Linked DNA regions of Homo sapiens: region 2 is linked to region 1. The links come from fine-mapping of genetic effects on gene expression. A gene starts in region 1. The other region holds a variant in brackets. All regions are shown on one strand. Distances are between the middles of the regions.

What was found. PIP is the estimated chance that this variant, and not a neighbour inherited with it, causes the effect.
Region 2: its variant is fine-mapped to the expression of CRTAM in whole blood (TOPMed, PIP 0.96).

Annotation. Positions count from the first base shown.
Region 1 is chr11:122,834,492-122,842,832 of GRCh38, forward strand. It overlaps CRTAM (cytotoxic and regulatory T cell molecule), which reads left to right and starts at 4,009. Exons shown (of 10, transcript NM_019604.4): 1 at 4,009-4,101. The coding sequence starts at 4,056.
Region 2 is chr11:122,866,916-122,875,256 of GRCh38, forward strand. It overlaps CRTAM (cytotoxic and regulatory T cell molecule), which reads left to right. Exons shown (of 10, transcript NM_019604.4): 8 at 494-640; 9 at 1,098-1,184; 10 at 4,354-5,728. The coding sequence ends at 4,484. Among named protein-coding and RNA genes, the nearest start is that of JHY, 12 kb to the right of the region's middle. The variant T/G (reference allele first, on the strand shown) is at 4,805.

The DNA of each region.
Region 1 (8,341 bases):
CACCCAACCTACCATGGTTCCTGTGGGGATGAGATGCTGCTCCAGCCACCTGAGGTCTGCAGATTTATGGAGAATGTTTTTTGTGCCAAGATGCTGGGTGCTCTGGGTATTATAATATTTTCAATTTAACCATCCATGAGTGCCCCATAAAGAAGGTGTGGCCCCGGGTGAGCTGGTTCTCTTCCACCGAGGGCAAGTATAAAAATTTGAAGTCCTTCAAAGGAATCTCATAGACAAAGAAAAATGTGTGTGTGTGTGTGTGTGTGTGTGTGTGTGTGTGTATCACTGACTCACTGTGTCACTTCAGGCAAACTTCTTAATTCTTTGGGTTTTTTAAATTTTATTTATTTTTTTTGAGACAGAGTCTCGTTCTGTCGCCGAGGCTGGAGGGCAGTGGCGCAATCTCGGCTCACTGCAACCTCCGCCTCCCAAGTTCAAGCAATTCTCCTGCCTCAGCCTCCCAAGTAGCTGGAACTACAGCTACCGTAGTCTGGCTAATTTTTTGTATTTTAGTAGAGATAGGGATTCACCGTGTTGCCCAGGCTGGTTGCAAACCCCTGAGCTTAGGCAATCCACCCATCTCAGCCTCCCAAAGTGCTGAGATTACAGGCGTGAGCCACCACGCCCGGCCAATTCTTCATTTTTAAAAATGCTACAGTCGAACTTTCTCAGCTCCTGCCTTATGATTCCTGGACAGTCACCTCAGGCTGTAATTATTCTTCCCATTTTACAAGTGAGGAAACTGATTCCAACAGGCAGGTAGTGTGCTTAGTGCTACACAGCTGCTAGTGACAGGGCCTAGGGGACAAGCCTGGGTCTGTCTGCTACTCACTCCCATGCTCGTCCCACTAAGCTCCCACTACTGCTAGGAAACTTCTCTCTGAATCAATAATTAATTTCAAAGGCTGCTGCTCTGGCTTAGAAACTCCACAGTCACTTTGTGCAAGTTTTACAGCAGTGCTCAGAAAACCTCAACACTTGGTGTGAGTTATCTGAGGCATCTTCTGGTAGATGCAGGCGAGTCCACCTCTTACTCTGACCTTGGGAAAGGTCACGATTCTTCACAGAATCTGTGAAAGGTCAAGAAGAAAGTGTAGGCCCCTTTTGTAAATGCAACAAAAAAACCCAGTGGCTTCTAGACATAAGGAAATCCCCTGTTTTCTGACCCTTAAAACAGTTCATCTTTAGCCTATTTAATAAATGTCTTATTTTTCATGTTTGCACCCCCCCACCCCCAAAACTCAGGTTGACAAGGGTGACGATGAAAAATAGAGAGGATGTTTGTTTATTTCTCCAAAATATGTCCCCCCTCTGCCACCCCACCAAATGTTATTTCCTATTAGTATTGAAACATAATATGAAGATTTCATAAAACGGAGACCAAAATGACAAACTAGCTATCAGTTGTGAGGTCTCCCACATACTGTTCAGTAGACTCTTTCCCATTAGAAAATAGGTAGACCACTTATTACCTTCCAACCTCGTCTTTTTCTCCCAATTCACTGAGCAGCCACAATCTGCTGCCCTCTCCTGTTGAATACTACATGAGCTGCAGGCTGAAGTGGGGGTAATGAGAACAGGGACCCTGGAAAGCACACATGTATGTCGTCCACCAGTTCACCTTGTAGCATTTCCCCCACCAACCGTTCTTAATGTCCAAGTCCAGTGGACTATTGTGACATTTGTCAAGGTTTTCAACCAGTTGAATATGGCACCCGTGGATGAAAAGGATACACTCTCCATCGTCCAAAGTGCAATTTAAAGTAAGCTCTTCTTTAATGCTCTGGGGAAATTGTAAGTCAAACATCTTTTTAGACTTCAGAGCAAAAAGAGTAGCATTTACATCTCAAATAAAGAGTCAATTTAGTCTTTCATTCACTCGTTGACAACCTATGTCAAGTGTTGTTGTGGGTCAGGTTCCTGGGAAACAGAAGCTGATACAGAGATCCGTGTGCAGAAGTTTATAGATGAGTACTCTTGGTGACAAGAAGGAAGCAAGTTGGAGAATCGGTAGAAGCTGGACTGAGGTGCAGTTACAACAAAGATCTCAGCTGATCCTGATCCCTTGGGGAGCTTCAGAGTTGCTCCACCTCAAGGCAAGGGAAAAGGACCTTGAGACCCCCTCATGGATGCCCTATGGAGGAAGAGTGACCCTGGGTAAACTGTTCTCTTCTACTGAGGACAAGTATAAAAATTAGAAGTTCCTGGATGGAATATTATGAGCAAAAGGGAAAAAATTAAAAAATGAAAAATTTGAAAGACAAAATATTGTGTTTTGGAGGATTTTTTATTTTTATTTTTTTAAGACAGGGTGTCACTTTGTCACCCAGATTGCAGTACAGTAGTGTGATCACGGCTCACCGCAGCCTCAACCTCCTGCATTCAAGCAACCCTTCCACCTCAGCCTCCCAAGTATCTGGGACTACAGGCATGCACCACCATGCTCAGCTAATTTTTGTATTTTTTGTAGAGATGGGGGTCTCACTATGTTGCCCAGGTTGGTCTTGAACTCCTGGCTTCAGATGATCCTCACACCTCAGCCTCCCAAAATGCTAAGATTACAGGCATGAGCCACTGTGCCCAGCCAACAAAATATTTGGAAGACATTTTTGATGAGTAAGACTTTTCCTACCCAAACTTCATCAAATTTATCAGAGTATTAACACTAATTTCAATTAGAGCCAGTAAGTAGTGTTTCCTTTTCATTTTCCAAGCATTGCAGACTGATCTCTGTTTTCTAAACATAAACTTACTAATATTTTACTGTGTGCTCCTGGAAAAACTACATTAAATCTATCTCAATTTGTCCAATTAATGAAAATTAAATACCAGAACTGTTCATATGTACATTGTCTCCCCCACTAGATTATATTCTCCTGAAAAACAAGGAATTTATGTTTTTTATTTGAGCATGTCTCAAAGTAGTGCATACTAGATGCTGTACAGGTGACAAGATGAATGGGTGGATAGAAGGATGGATGGATGGATGGATGGATGGATGGATGGACGGACGGACATATGTATAGATAGATGGGTGGGTAAATGGATGAATGAGTGGGTGAATGGATGAATGCGTGGGTGGATAGATAGATGGGTGGTTGGGTGGATGGATGAGTATTTGCATGTATAGATAGATGGGTGGGTGAATGAATAGGTCATGGACGGATGGATGGATGGATAGATGGATGGGTGAATGGATGGATGGGTGGATAAATGGATGGATGGATGGATGGATGGATGGATGGATGGATGGATGGATGGATGGATAGATGGATAGATGGATGGATAAATAGATGGATGGCTGGCTGGCTGGATGGATGGAGAGATGGATGGATGTGTGGATGAATAGATGGATGGATGGGTGGATGGGGAATGAGTGGGCAGGTAATACATGAGTGAGTGGGTGGATGGAAGGATAAATGGATGGGTGGATGGATGTGTGGGTGGATGGATGGAAGGATGGATGGATGGATAGGTGGATGAATAGATTTGTATTTGTGAGTGGGTGGATGAAAAGATGGGTGGATGGGTGGGTGGACAGATATATAGATTTCAAAAATGAGTATATCTATATGAATGAATGAATTCCTCCCCGACAACAATTATAAATTGATGTCAGCATAGAAATAAAATATTCCCAAAGGTTGAGCAAAAATTATCTAATTGTATTTATCTAATAAACTAGAAAAGTAAAAATAAGGATGACGTCACTACACAGGGACATTTTACAGTATTTCTCCCACCCATGCTCCCTCTAAAAACCTTGCAACTAGTTGATTTACCAGTACTACCCACTTGTGGTAAAACAATTTTTGTCACCAACACATCACTCACACCTCTCTGCCATCAAGATAATACATGTGGTCCCCAAAATGTTCCACCAGGAGGTGTTCTGGGGGCAGCTAACTAAGAGGGGGCTTCCAGACAGATGGAGGAGTTGATACACATGAGGTCACAGATCTACTGCCTCTCCCCCTTTAAAAGAAACTACTCAGCTCCATTTGTCTCAGAATCTAGAGGAAGTTGACAAAGGTGCCACAGCAGCACAGCACAGTATGTGGTGGAGAGTTCTCAGCTTGCTGGCATGGTTCCCCTTGCAAGGTAAGGACTTAGAGTTATTTTTGTTGTTGCTCAGCTGACTTAATGTTTTGCCACATCTACCTATCAGTCAGTCAACTGCATTTACAGAGGAGCTGCTGTAGAAGACAACCCAGGTAACTGCTAATACTTTCCAAGCCATGCTCAAATCATGCATCTGAGGGATGTTACTGCGTTTATTTGATCTCTCGTTCAATGGCTAAGGAGTATAGAAAGGATCATTATAGTGTGTGTCTCTGTGGGTCCTATGTTACGGCAAGATGAAACAAGCTTATTAGGCTCTGTCTTTTAAGGGCATACCAGTTGAAAGAGCATCCGTATTGAATTTTATTTTATTTTATTTATTTATTTATTTATGAGACACAGTCTCGCTCTGTCGCCCAGGCTGGAGTGCAGCGGCACGACCTCGGCTCACTGCAAGCTCCGCCTCCCGGGTTCACGCCTTTCTCCTGCCTCAGCCTCCCAAGTAGCTGGGACTACAGGTGCCCGCCACCACCACGCCCGGCTAATTTTTTTATATTTTTAGTAGAGACGGGGTTTCACCGTGTTAGCCAGGATGGTCTCAATCTCCTGACCTCGTGATCTGCCCACCTCAGCCTCCCAAAGTGCTGGGATTACAGGCGTAAGCCACCGCGCCCGGCCTCCACGTTGAATTTTAAAATTTCCTTGCTGTATAAATCTTAGCCAAACGATTTAATCTCTTTGAAACTCAGTTTCTGCATCTTAAAATGAAAATGATAAAAACTTTTGATCCACCAAACTCCCTGGATTGTTAGAAGGATCAAATTTCAAATGTGAAAGCACTTTGAAAATGATAAAGCGCTGTGCAACACTTATTTAGCTCAGAGGTAATAATGAGACCAATGAAAACTTCGTGTTTATTTTTAAAGAGTAAGTTATACTTTACATTTTACTATAATTTTCAAATTTGGATTTTAGTGCTTAATCCTAATGTAGCATTATGAAAATTAAGGATAGAAGCAGTTACCTTTTTGGAGCAGGTCAAATTATTTTCTACCCAAAAGTGGGGGCAGGGGTGTAGGAAGTGGCTCCTGTTGTCCCTCAGTCTCTGCTTACAATTGTATCAGATTCATGCAAAGGACATCCCTCACAAATCCACTCAAAAATTTTGCTTTTTGTGTGTTTGTTACCAAATATTGAAACTGTAGTTCTGTTTCATGAAATGCACCTATCCTTCTAAATCTACATTTAATCTGGAATGGCATCTGAAGGACGCTACTTTAAAAAACTCGATTTCCTATTTTACATAGTACTTCAATTCCCTATTTTATATACTTCAATTAATGCCTTCTTTTTTTGGTCCCTGTACCCTGAGGCACTTAATAAGGATTCAATTTTGGTAATGAATAATATTAGTTTCTTCATTAAGTGGCTTAAAGAATAGCTAATACATTCAAAAAGAGTACATTTAGACAGCTAAAATTAGGATGATTTCAATTTTTCCAGAGTTTAAAGCCTTTCACTGACCTTAACTTTTTCAGGCTTTGAGTTATTGCCTCATAAAAAATAACTCATAAAAATACATTTTTTAAATAAATAGCAAAAATTATGTTTCAAGGTAAACCTAAATTACTTAAATATTATTTATATAGAGAGGAAAAATATTGTTTCATGCACAGTGCTGAGTACTTTGTGTTAATTACACTTAATCATAGCGGAAGTACTGAGGTAGGTACTAATATCCCCAATTTAAAGATGAGAAAAGAAGTTATGTAACCTGCCCAAGTTTTAAAGCTAGAATATGACAACATAAATACCAGCCTATAAAGCACATAGTAAAAGTATTTATTTCATGAAACTTCTAATTAACGTGTGTGTGTGTGTGTGTGTACTAGTTGTGACAGAAAATGTATTAATGTGGATCAAAAGTTGGAAAACCACTGACTTTCACAATTTGGAGGATTCAATATTAAAAAGTCCTATTTGAAAACTCGTTCAAGGGGCCACCCGAGGGCATCTAAGCTCAATGGCATTTGAGCAGTGGCTGCCACCCCTGACCTAACCTTGCTCAAGCCCATCCCAGACGTAATTAGGAGGAGGTGACCATGTTGCTTTCTTGTCAGCAAAAAAGGCAGCAAATCATCAGTTTTGGCAAAGCTATAAACTGTCAGCTGATTTTAGCAAATTAAATTATGGGAAGATCACTGTGACTACTTCTACAGTGTTACTTCTATGGCTGCCAAAAATTTATGGAAAAAAAAAAAGTCACGTAATCTCAGAGCCTGCCCTCTTTTCAAGGCCACTCCCAGAATAAATAGTCTTAGGACTGGTAAAAACACAATAAAAATGAAGCATTTTTCAAAATTCATCCCATTAAATTACACTGTAGACAATGAAAATGTCAAATCCAATGAATTTTGAACCCTCTGTTTTCATTGTTTTGTGGAGGGTAGGATGCAGAAAACAAAGGAAAATTGCAAATTGAGTAGTTCTTTTCATACTTTCTTTGCCCAGGAAAAAGTCACATGTTAGATGACATGTTGAGACAGCTTCTTTAAAATGTACTAAAAATATTCCGATTCTGACAAGTCTGATTTATTTTTATACCTGCAATTTTCTCTATTGATTCAATCTAAAAATAATAAAAATCTTTTTTTGTAATGATCTGAATTAAAACACACTTTTGCTTAATGCCTCATGACAGTCATGTAACTAGGGCTCTGATTTGAGAATTAATGCATTGCATGTCTCTGGCTTTAACTTAGCCCTAGTCTTTATTATTTGATATAACAGTTAAAGAGCAAAGTTAGCATCCTATTATAATATTTATTCCTAAATATATACTTTTACTCTATTTTTTTTTTTTTTGAGACAGAGTCTTGCTCCGTCGCCCAGGCTGGAGTGCAGTGGTGTGATCTCAGCTCACTGCAAGCTCCACCTCCCGGGTTGACGCCATTCTCCTGCCTCAGCCTCCCGAGTAGCTGGGACTACAGGCACCCGCCACCACTCCTGGCTAATTTTTTGTATTTTTAGTAGAGACAGGCTTTCACCATGTTAGCCAGGATAGTCTCGATCTCCTGATCTCATGATCCGCCTGCCTCAGCCTTCCAAAGTGCTGGGATTACAGGTGTGAGCCACCGAGCCCGGCCTATTTACTCATTTTTATCCACTAATTCAACCAATATCTAAAATTTTACATTATGCTAAAATGAGTGGATGGCAAACAGCTTTTCCATAAGGAGTTTGTAATCTATCTACAGAGAAACACCTGTAACCAAATAATTATAAAGTAATGTGCTAAGTGCTGTAATAGAAGTATATCTCAAGACTTTGGGAAACTAGGGGAAAGACATTATGGGGAAAAGGGAAGCTAAGGCCTGTTTTGGAAGTTTTGACAAAAGTTGTGTAATTTGAGTTGAGCCTATAAGTTGAGTCTTGAGTTGGGTCTTAATGTTGAGTCTTGAAGGAGATGAGAAAGACATTCCAGGACAAGAGAATATCATAGAAAAAGACAAACTATCTTCTGGAGCCTGGAACTTTCTGGAAACAGCAAGTGGACATGTACAAGGACTATCTGAAAAGGAGTATCACGACATGGCAAAGGAGGAGAACACAGGAGTCAAGTCGGCTGGAATTTGGGCCTGATTCCTATAGGCAATGGAAGCCATAGCAAACACTTGAATGAAGGAAGAGACATAATCAAATTCATGGGTTATATGTTTGTTTGTTTGTTTGTTTGTTTGTTGAGATGGAATTTCATTCTTGTTGCCCTGGCTGGAGTGCAATGGCACAATCTCACTCACCACAACCTCCACCTCCCAGGTTCAAGTGATTCTCCTGCCTCAGCCTCCAGAGTAGCTGGGATTACAGGTGCCTGCCACCATCCCTGGCTAATTTTTTGTATTTTTAGTAGACATGGGGTTTCACTATGTCGGCCAGGCTGGTCTCGAACTCCTGACCTCAGGAGATCCACCCGCCTCGGCCTCCCAAAGTGCTGGGATTACAGGCGTTGAGCCACCACGCCCGGCCTCAAATTCATGGTTTTAAAATGTAATCCTAGAACCAGATGATGATGATGAATTAGAGAGAAGAGAGACTAGAACTAAGTTATTACAGTGGTCCAGGAAAGAAATGATGGAGTCCTTAACTAAGGCAGCAATAATAGTGACAAAAGAGGACTAAATTGATTAAAGGATGTTTTGGAGAAAGAAGAGTTTAGAGCACCTCTCAAATATCTGGTGTGCAGTGGTTGGTGATGACATTAATTTATATAAGGGAACTC
Region 2 (8,341 bases), 32 kb after region 1:
TATTTTCACAAGCTCATCTGATTTAGCCCAAATGCCTTCCTGTAGGGCCACATTTAACCTAACCAAGATAAATAAATTTTCATTTTATTTGGATAGTTTTTTAAACTCCTTAACAATCCCTCTTGCTACTTAACTATATTTTGCTAAAAATCATTCCTAAAGCTAATTTGAATCTCCTGACTATAACTTAAGTCGATTTTCTCATATGCTTTCTGTAGAAATAAAAAATAACTAGCCCAATAGCTACGTCACTTAAAAAATCTTTTCAAATCATCACACATAATTGCCTTGTTTGTTGTATGCCTGTTTGCTTGTTCTCAGAGAATGAACAATGTAAGTCTCTTTACCTTCAGGGGTAAGCTCTTTCTCATCTCTTCATCTGAGCTGTCTATTAGCTTATATCACATTGTAGAAGTATTGTTACATATTCTCCAGTGGCAAAAAAAAAAAAAAAACCCAAAGTATCTAAACTCCTTTTTCATTTTCCTTATAGAAGCAAATCCTCAGTATTTAGGACTGGCAAGAAAGAAAAGTGGCATCCTGCTGCTCACGCTGGTGTCCTTCCTCATTTTCATACTCTTCATCATAGTCCAGCTCTTCATCATGAAGCTGAGGAAAGCACATGTGATATGGAAGAAAGGTCAGTGGGCAGGGAACCTGACGGGGGCTATAAGACGCCAGAACAAATGGCTAAAAAAAAGGGAAATTCTGTCCATTAAAGCTTTCTGTCAGACACTACATAATCTATTTGATAAGTGCTGTCTCAGATAAGCAATTGTTTGTTTTCTAGTAAACTCGGGTGTGAATCTCCAGGGACTATAGTCTAAGAGTGTATAATCAATAGAAACTAGCATAGATCCAGAAATTGGCATTAAATGATAGACACTTCTATTCACAGAAGGATAAAAATCCCAGGACTGCCTAGCACAGTCCCTACAGGAATCAAAAACTATGTGTTGAATTAATGAGGTATGAGTTATGGGAGGGGCATGGTAAGTCTACTATTGCACAGTAACAGAGGTATTATCTTATTCAAATATACATTTCTACATGTCCATGGCATCAGAAATTAGTTGCTTGATTTTCTTTTTTTGTAGAAAACGAAGTTTCAGAACACACACTAGAAAGTTACAGATCAAGGTCAAATAATGAAGAAACATCATCTGAAGAGAAAAATGGCCAATGTAAGTCAACTGTATGACCTGAGATCTGAACAATGAGGTTCATTAATGTATTAGTCAGATTTCTCCAGAGAGACAGAGACAACAGAATATGTGTGTGTGTGTGTGTGTGTGTGTGTGTGTGTGTGTGTGTGTGTGTGTATGAGGTGGGATTTATTAGGGGAATTGGCTCATGAGATTATGGAGGCTGACAAGTCCTTGGACAGGAGGTCTGCAAACTGGAGACCCTGGTATGCTGGTAGCCTGGCTCAGTCCAAGTTCAAAGGCCTGAGAACTCAGGGGACCGCCAGCGTTAAGTCCTGAAATCCGAAGCTAGGGAGTCTCGAGTTCTGCTGCCAGGAGAGAGGAGGGAGTGTATTCCAGCTCCAGCAGACAGATCAACACATTTGCCTTCTTTCTGATTTTGTTCTTTCTGGGCCCCCAACAGAATGGATGGTGCCCATCCACATCAAGGGCAAATCTCAATGCCCACCTACTCCACTCAGACTCACACACTAATCTCCTCTAGAAACAACCTCATAGACAAACCCAAAAATAATGCTTTACCAGATTTGAGGTATTTCTTAATCCACCCAACTTAACACTTAAAATTAACCATCGCAATTAAGTAGTCGCCTTTAAAAAGAAGGAGGCTGGGTACGGTGGCTCACGCCTGTAATCCCAGCACTTTGGGAGGCCGAGGCGGGCGGATCACGAGGTCAGGAGATCGAGACCATCCTGGCTAACACAGTGAAACCCTGTCTCTACTAAAAATACAAAACAATTAGCCGGGCATGGTGGCAGGAGCCTGTAGTCCCAGCTACTTGGGAGGCTGAGGCAGGAGAATGGCGTGAACCCGGGAGGCGGAGCTTGCAGTGAGCCGAGATCGTGCCACTGCACTCCAACCTGGGTGACAGAGAGGGACTCCACCTCAAAAAAATAAAAATAAAAATAAATAAAAAGAAGGAGAAGAATCAAAATCTGATTTTTTAGCACTAGAAAGTCTCCTAAATCATCCTGTAGAACTTAAGGAGTCTCATCTGCAAAAATAAATAGTAGCAGTTAAGTTCATGTAGCAGAAGGTGACTTCCTTTTGGGAAGCCATCCTTGACTGTTTGACGTCACACACAGGGATACCCCAAGACCACCAGAGGATCCTATGACACCTTTGTCATAGAAGCACGTCTTCCTCCATATTGTAATTTTTGGTGTTTTTACATAGCTACTACAATACTCCTTTAGGTGGTGAGTAATCAGATTTACTCTGTATCCTCAGATTCTAGCACAGGTTAGTTGATAAATTTGTGTTAAATGAGTGACTATAGGCTCAATTAATTCAAGAAGGCATGTGTCAGGTCCTTTGGATGACTTCATTGCAATTCCTGAGACAAAATATGTAAAGAAAATGAAGAGAATCGGGATGGGAAGGAGATTGTGTATGGGAAGTGGAGGTTGGGGATTGTATTCTTGATAAAGATCTGGAAGGCAGAAGCTAGGACTATAGAAAAGCAAGAATATTCCACCTTCCAACCATATTATTTCCTCCATACAAACTAACTTATTCTACCCGCCAGGAGCTGCAAGAAATACAGCGAGTTTTGCCGCTCTATTCTATTGGTTTTACTGAGGTTTTTGTAGGAGGCTTGTCTTTTATAACACCTCTGCCTCTTTAGGTTTTGACCTACTAGAGCGTGAACTGAAAAGAATGAATAGATGTACTAGCTGGGAAAGGAACACAAGAGAATTGACTGTGTGAAAACTGGGGGTGGGAGGGGAAAATGTGTGTAAATAACATCCAAGTCGATTGTGTTGCAACACCTGTTTCTAAATACCCGTCATCACATACTCACCTGGTGGACAGGAAAATGATGTTAATATCATGTGTGAGTTGGGTTGCTCCCTGAGCTGTTTTTCCTAGGCAAGAAGAACCAAAACAGTGGGAGTAGAATTATGTCTGTTAGCTGGAAAAATGGAAGCCCTTCCAGTTCAACTTTTAAAACAATTTTTCTTTCTTTTTTTTTGAGACAGGGTCTCTCACTCTGTTGCCCAGGCTGGAGTGCCATGGTGCCATCATAGGTCACTGCAGCCTTGACCTTTCGAGCTCAATCAGTCCTCCCGCCTCAGCCTTCCTAGTAGCTGGGACTACAGGCACGCACCACCACGCCCAGTTAATTTTTATATTTTTAGTAGAGATGGGGTTTCACCATGTTGCCCAGGCTGGTCTTGAACTCCTGGACTCAAGTGATCCACCCACCTTGGCCTCCCAAAGTGCTGGGATTACAGGCATGAGCCACCACGCCCAGCCAACTTTAAGAATATTTAAAATGAGTACCTGCACGACTCAGGGGATTCCTCCCCAGAAAAGTACATCTTCAGGGGTTTGCTGGGGGTTTCACTTTCTCCCGAGCTCAAGCCTTCACTTTCATCCTCCTTGCCTTAGCACCCTCAAATCTAGCATTTTAATTGTGTTGTTTTGGACATATTAAAAATATTCTCTGGGGCCATCTCTAGTCTCTTTGTACAGAATTGCATAGGCCTTGAGTGTGATCTGCCCCGACCCTATTTTTGCAGTAAGCCCTGTTATTTCTAGTGTGCAATTTTGCTAAGGCAATATGTTATGGTCAGCAACAGATTATTTTACAGCAGAAATATCTGTATATTTTATTTCACGTTTACCAGTATATTGTTTATATAGTAAGACTTCTTTAAAAATTATAGTATAGGCCAGTGCAGTGGCTTATGCCTATAATCCCAGGATTTGGGGAGGCTGAGGCGGGTGGATCACTTGAGCCCAGGTGTTTGAGACCAGCCTAGGCAATATAGTGAAACCCCGTCTCTACAAATAATTTGAAAATTAGCTGGGCATGGTAGTGTGTGCCTGTAATTCCAGGTACTCAAGAGGCTAAGGTTAGAGGATCACTTGAGCCCGGGAGGCTGAGGCTGCAGTGGGCCGTGATCACACCACTGCACTTCAGCCTGGGTGGCAGAGTGAGAACCTGTCTCAAAAAAAAACCACGAAAAACAAAAAAGAATATAATAATGCCTTCAGACCATTTATATGCATCAGTAAGTTTTAGGTTTTTATAAAGCAATATGTGAACCTAAAAATATGATATCCAATCAAAGTGTTTCAAGTAAATGGGTGCAATGTTATTCAAAATAAATATTCATCTTCAACATGTTTTTCTTTCAGCTTCCCACCCTATGCGTTGCATGAACTACATCACAAAGTTGTACTCAGAAGCAAAAACAAAGAGGAAGGAAAATGTACAACATTCAAAATTAGAAGAAAAGCACATCCAAGTACCAGAGAGTATTGTGTAGTGCTCTCTGCAATGGAACATGTGATTTCAGGGTTGCCGCAGTGTCACCTCAGTGGACCAGCCTGGGGGAAGGAGCTTAATTGCTGAGACATTAATAATGACCTCTTAGTGCAATGCAAGATGGTGTCCTCGGATAATGATCTGCCCCGGAGCTAGGGCAGCAACATGAGGACCAAACCATGCACATAAAGCTTGTAGTTTAAAAAAGAAAAGCAAAAAAATAATTATGCCTGACACTACTTCAGAGCAGGAGGATTCTACGAAGCCTTGGGGATCAGGGTCAGTGTGAGCAGCTAACATCCTACCTCAAATGGAACAGGA[T/G]TTTTTGATGCTTTGCTCTAATGGAACTGTTTAAAAAATTTTTTTTTCTTTTTAATATTTTCTTCTGGTCACAAAATAAAGAAATTTGGGATGCAAAGTACCTAAAGATCTCTGATCCTAAGAAGTTACTTCTGGCCAGGCGCGGTGGCTCATGCCTGTAATCCTAGCACTTTGGGAGGCTGAGGTAGGCAGATCACTTGAGGTCAGGAGTTGGAGACCAGCCTGGCCAACATAGTGAAACCCCGTCTCTACTAAAAATGCAAAAATTAGCCAGGCGTAGTGGTGCGCACCTGTAGTCTCAGATACTTGGGAGGCTGAGGGTGGAGAATCGCTTGAACCTGGGAGGTGGAGATTGCAGTGAGTCAAGATCTCACCACTGCACTCCAGCCTGGGCAACAGAGGGAGACTCTGTCTCAAAAAAAAAGAAGTTACTTCCAAGACAGACTTTTAAGATGTAACCAGCACAAAGCAATGTCAGGGAGGAGTGATACATGACAATAAATGAGTCAGATGAGCAAGAAGGCCCCAGAACCCATGCCCCAAGGCACAAAGAGGAGCTCAGGGTAGGCCCAAAGATTCGAATTCCTTAGATTACTAAATCACATGAGCGGACCTTGTCTGTCAGATAAGATTTTTACCTGGAAATTCCATGACCAATACATGTGCAAAAGAAAATGATGGGTTGAATTTACTGATTATTGACCTAATGGATGGCTTTTTAAAATGTTTTAATAAAAAGCAGAATAGATGTTTGTTTTTCTAGTGGTTATACCAAGTTATACTTCCTGTTTTCACGTGTGAAAGTAACATGGGACATGCCTTTCTTTTCCGATCAGTTTATTTAAGCTATACAGCAAACTTTGGCATTTATGTGGAGCATTTCTCATTGTTGGAATCTGAATAAACCAATTACAAAATAACATATGTGCACATTGTAAGTCTGTAATTTGTGATAGGGGCCAGATCCAACCATGCTGATTTTTTGTTCTCTTGACAAAACTGTTTTGGACAATCACAACATTACAGAAAAGTGTAAAGATAGAACAAAGCACTTTTCCCCCTGGAATCATTTGAGAGTAAGTTGACACAATACCCATCACCCCCCAAATCCTTCAGTGTGTGCTTCCTACAAATAAGAACGCTCTCCTTTAGAAACACAATGCAACCATCAAAAGTGGGAAATTAGCACTGTTCTGCTTCCACGAACAGTCCTCAGACTCCATTCAGGTTTCTCCAATTGTCCCAAAGGATCCAGTTCAGAGTCACACTTCATTTTAGTCTCATTCAGTTTGGAACAGTTCTTCGGTCTTGGCTTGCCTTTCATGACCTGGATATTTTTGAAGATTACAGGCTGGTTATTTTGTAGATCATCTCTCAATTTGGCTTTGTCTGCTTCCTCGTGGTTAGATTCAAGTTGTGCAGCTCTCATAGGACTGTCACAGAAGCGATGTTAAGTTTATTTCATTGGGCCAGGCACAATGGCTCACGCCTGTAATCCCAGCACTTTAGGAAGCAGAGGCAGGCGGATCACCTGAGGTCTGGAGTTCGAGACCAGCCTGGCCAACATGGTGAAACCCCATTTCTACTAAAAATGCAAAAATTAGCTGGGTGTAGTGGTGCATGCCTGTAATCCCAGCTACTCAGAAGGCTGAGTCAGGAGAATTGCTTCTACCAAAAAATACAATCCCAGAGTGCTGGGATTACAGGCATGAGCCACTGTGCCTGGCATATAATGGGGTTTTGAGCTAGATGAAATATAGTTCTATTGTTCAATGTTGTACCTTCCAAGAGAGAAGCCCTCCCCCTTCCTGTGATTGCTTTGAACAAATTTGTTCAAGAGCAAATTTGTTATAATTGATAATTACTCTAGACCTGTTGAAATATGTTAATTTTTAGGCCAGGCGCAGTGGCTCACACCTGTAATCCGAGCACTTTGGGAGGCTGAGGCGGGTGGATCACGAGGTGAGGAGTTCGAGACCAGCCGGGCCAAGATGGTGAAACCCCATCTCTAATAAAAATACAAAAATTAGCTGGGTGTGGTGGCGGGCACCTGTAATCCCAGCTACTCGGGAGGCTGAGGCAGGACAATTGCTTGAACCTGGGAGGCGGAGGTGGCAGTAAGCCAAGATCGCACTACTGCACTCCAGTCTGGGAGACAGAGCAAGACTCTGTCTGAAAAAAAAATTTTTTTAAATGTTAATTTTTTCTTACGTTTTCTGCTCTATGTCTTGTTTCCAGTTAGAAGCAAACCAAAACTAAGGCCACAAAAATGTCATTATTCTCCCAAATGCCATCTTGCCTAGGTTGATCTCAAACTCCTGGGCTGAAGTGATCTGCCCACCTCGGCCTCCCAAAGTGCTGAGATTATAGACATGAGTTGCCAAACTGGCCCACACACTTTTAAACAACCAGATCTCGATGAACTCAGAGTGAGAACTCACCCATTAGCAACAGGATGGTACCAAGCTATTCTTGAGGGACCTACCCCTGTGATCAAAATACCTTCTACCAGGCCCCACCTTCAACACTGGAGATTACATTTCGACATGAGATTTGGAGGGAACAAATATCCAAACCACATCAACGAGGCTAGAACATTTTATACTAGAAAGAAAGGAAGCTATCAAAGACTCTTCTGGAACTGTGTTAAAGGGCCCAGAAACCAATTTGTGTACACCCTCCAGGGACTTTCAGTGGCCAAAGATGGGATAATCTGAGCATTAAAAAAGAGTAGTGATTGGGCCGGGCATGGTGGCTCATGCCTGTAATTCCAGCACTTTGGGAGGCTGAGGCAGGTAGATCACGAGGTCAAGAGACCAAGACCATCCTGGTCAACATGGTGAAACCTCGTCTCTACTAAAAATACAAAAATTTGCTGGGCGTAGTGGCATGCACCTGTAGTCCCAGCTACTCAGGAAGCTGAGGCAGGAGAATCGCTTGAACCCGGAAGAGGGAGGTTGCAGTGAGCTGAGATCGCGCCACTGCACTCCAGCCTGGTGACAGAGCGAGACCCTGTCTCAAAAAAAAATAAATAAATAAAATAAAAATAAATGAATAAATAAATAAAGAGTAGTGATTGAAACATGTTAAATACATTAAAACTCATGAGTTTTTACAATACTTTAAAAATGTACTGATCAGCTTTAGAGATTGCTCAGACACTAGTTTTTAAACTGAAATTTGAAATATATCATTAAAATAACTATGTAATAAAAACAGCCATGAGCACAAGAAAAGATGGGAAACGCAAATCGAAACTGGAATATGATGCCGCTTCACACCTATAAAAATGGCTATAATAAAAAAGAGAAAATAACAAATTTTGGAAAGGTTATAGAGAAATGAGAGCCCTCAGACATGACTGGTGAGAATGTAAAATAGCTCAGCCACATTGGAAAACAGCCTTGCGTTACTCAAAAAGTTACACATAGGGTTACCATATGCTTCAGCAGTTCTACTCCTAGAAAGAATATACCCAAGAGAATTGAAAAATATGTCCACACAGGCGGGGCGTGGTGGCTCATAGTGAAACTCCAT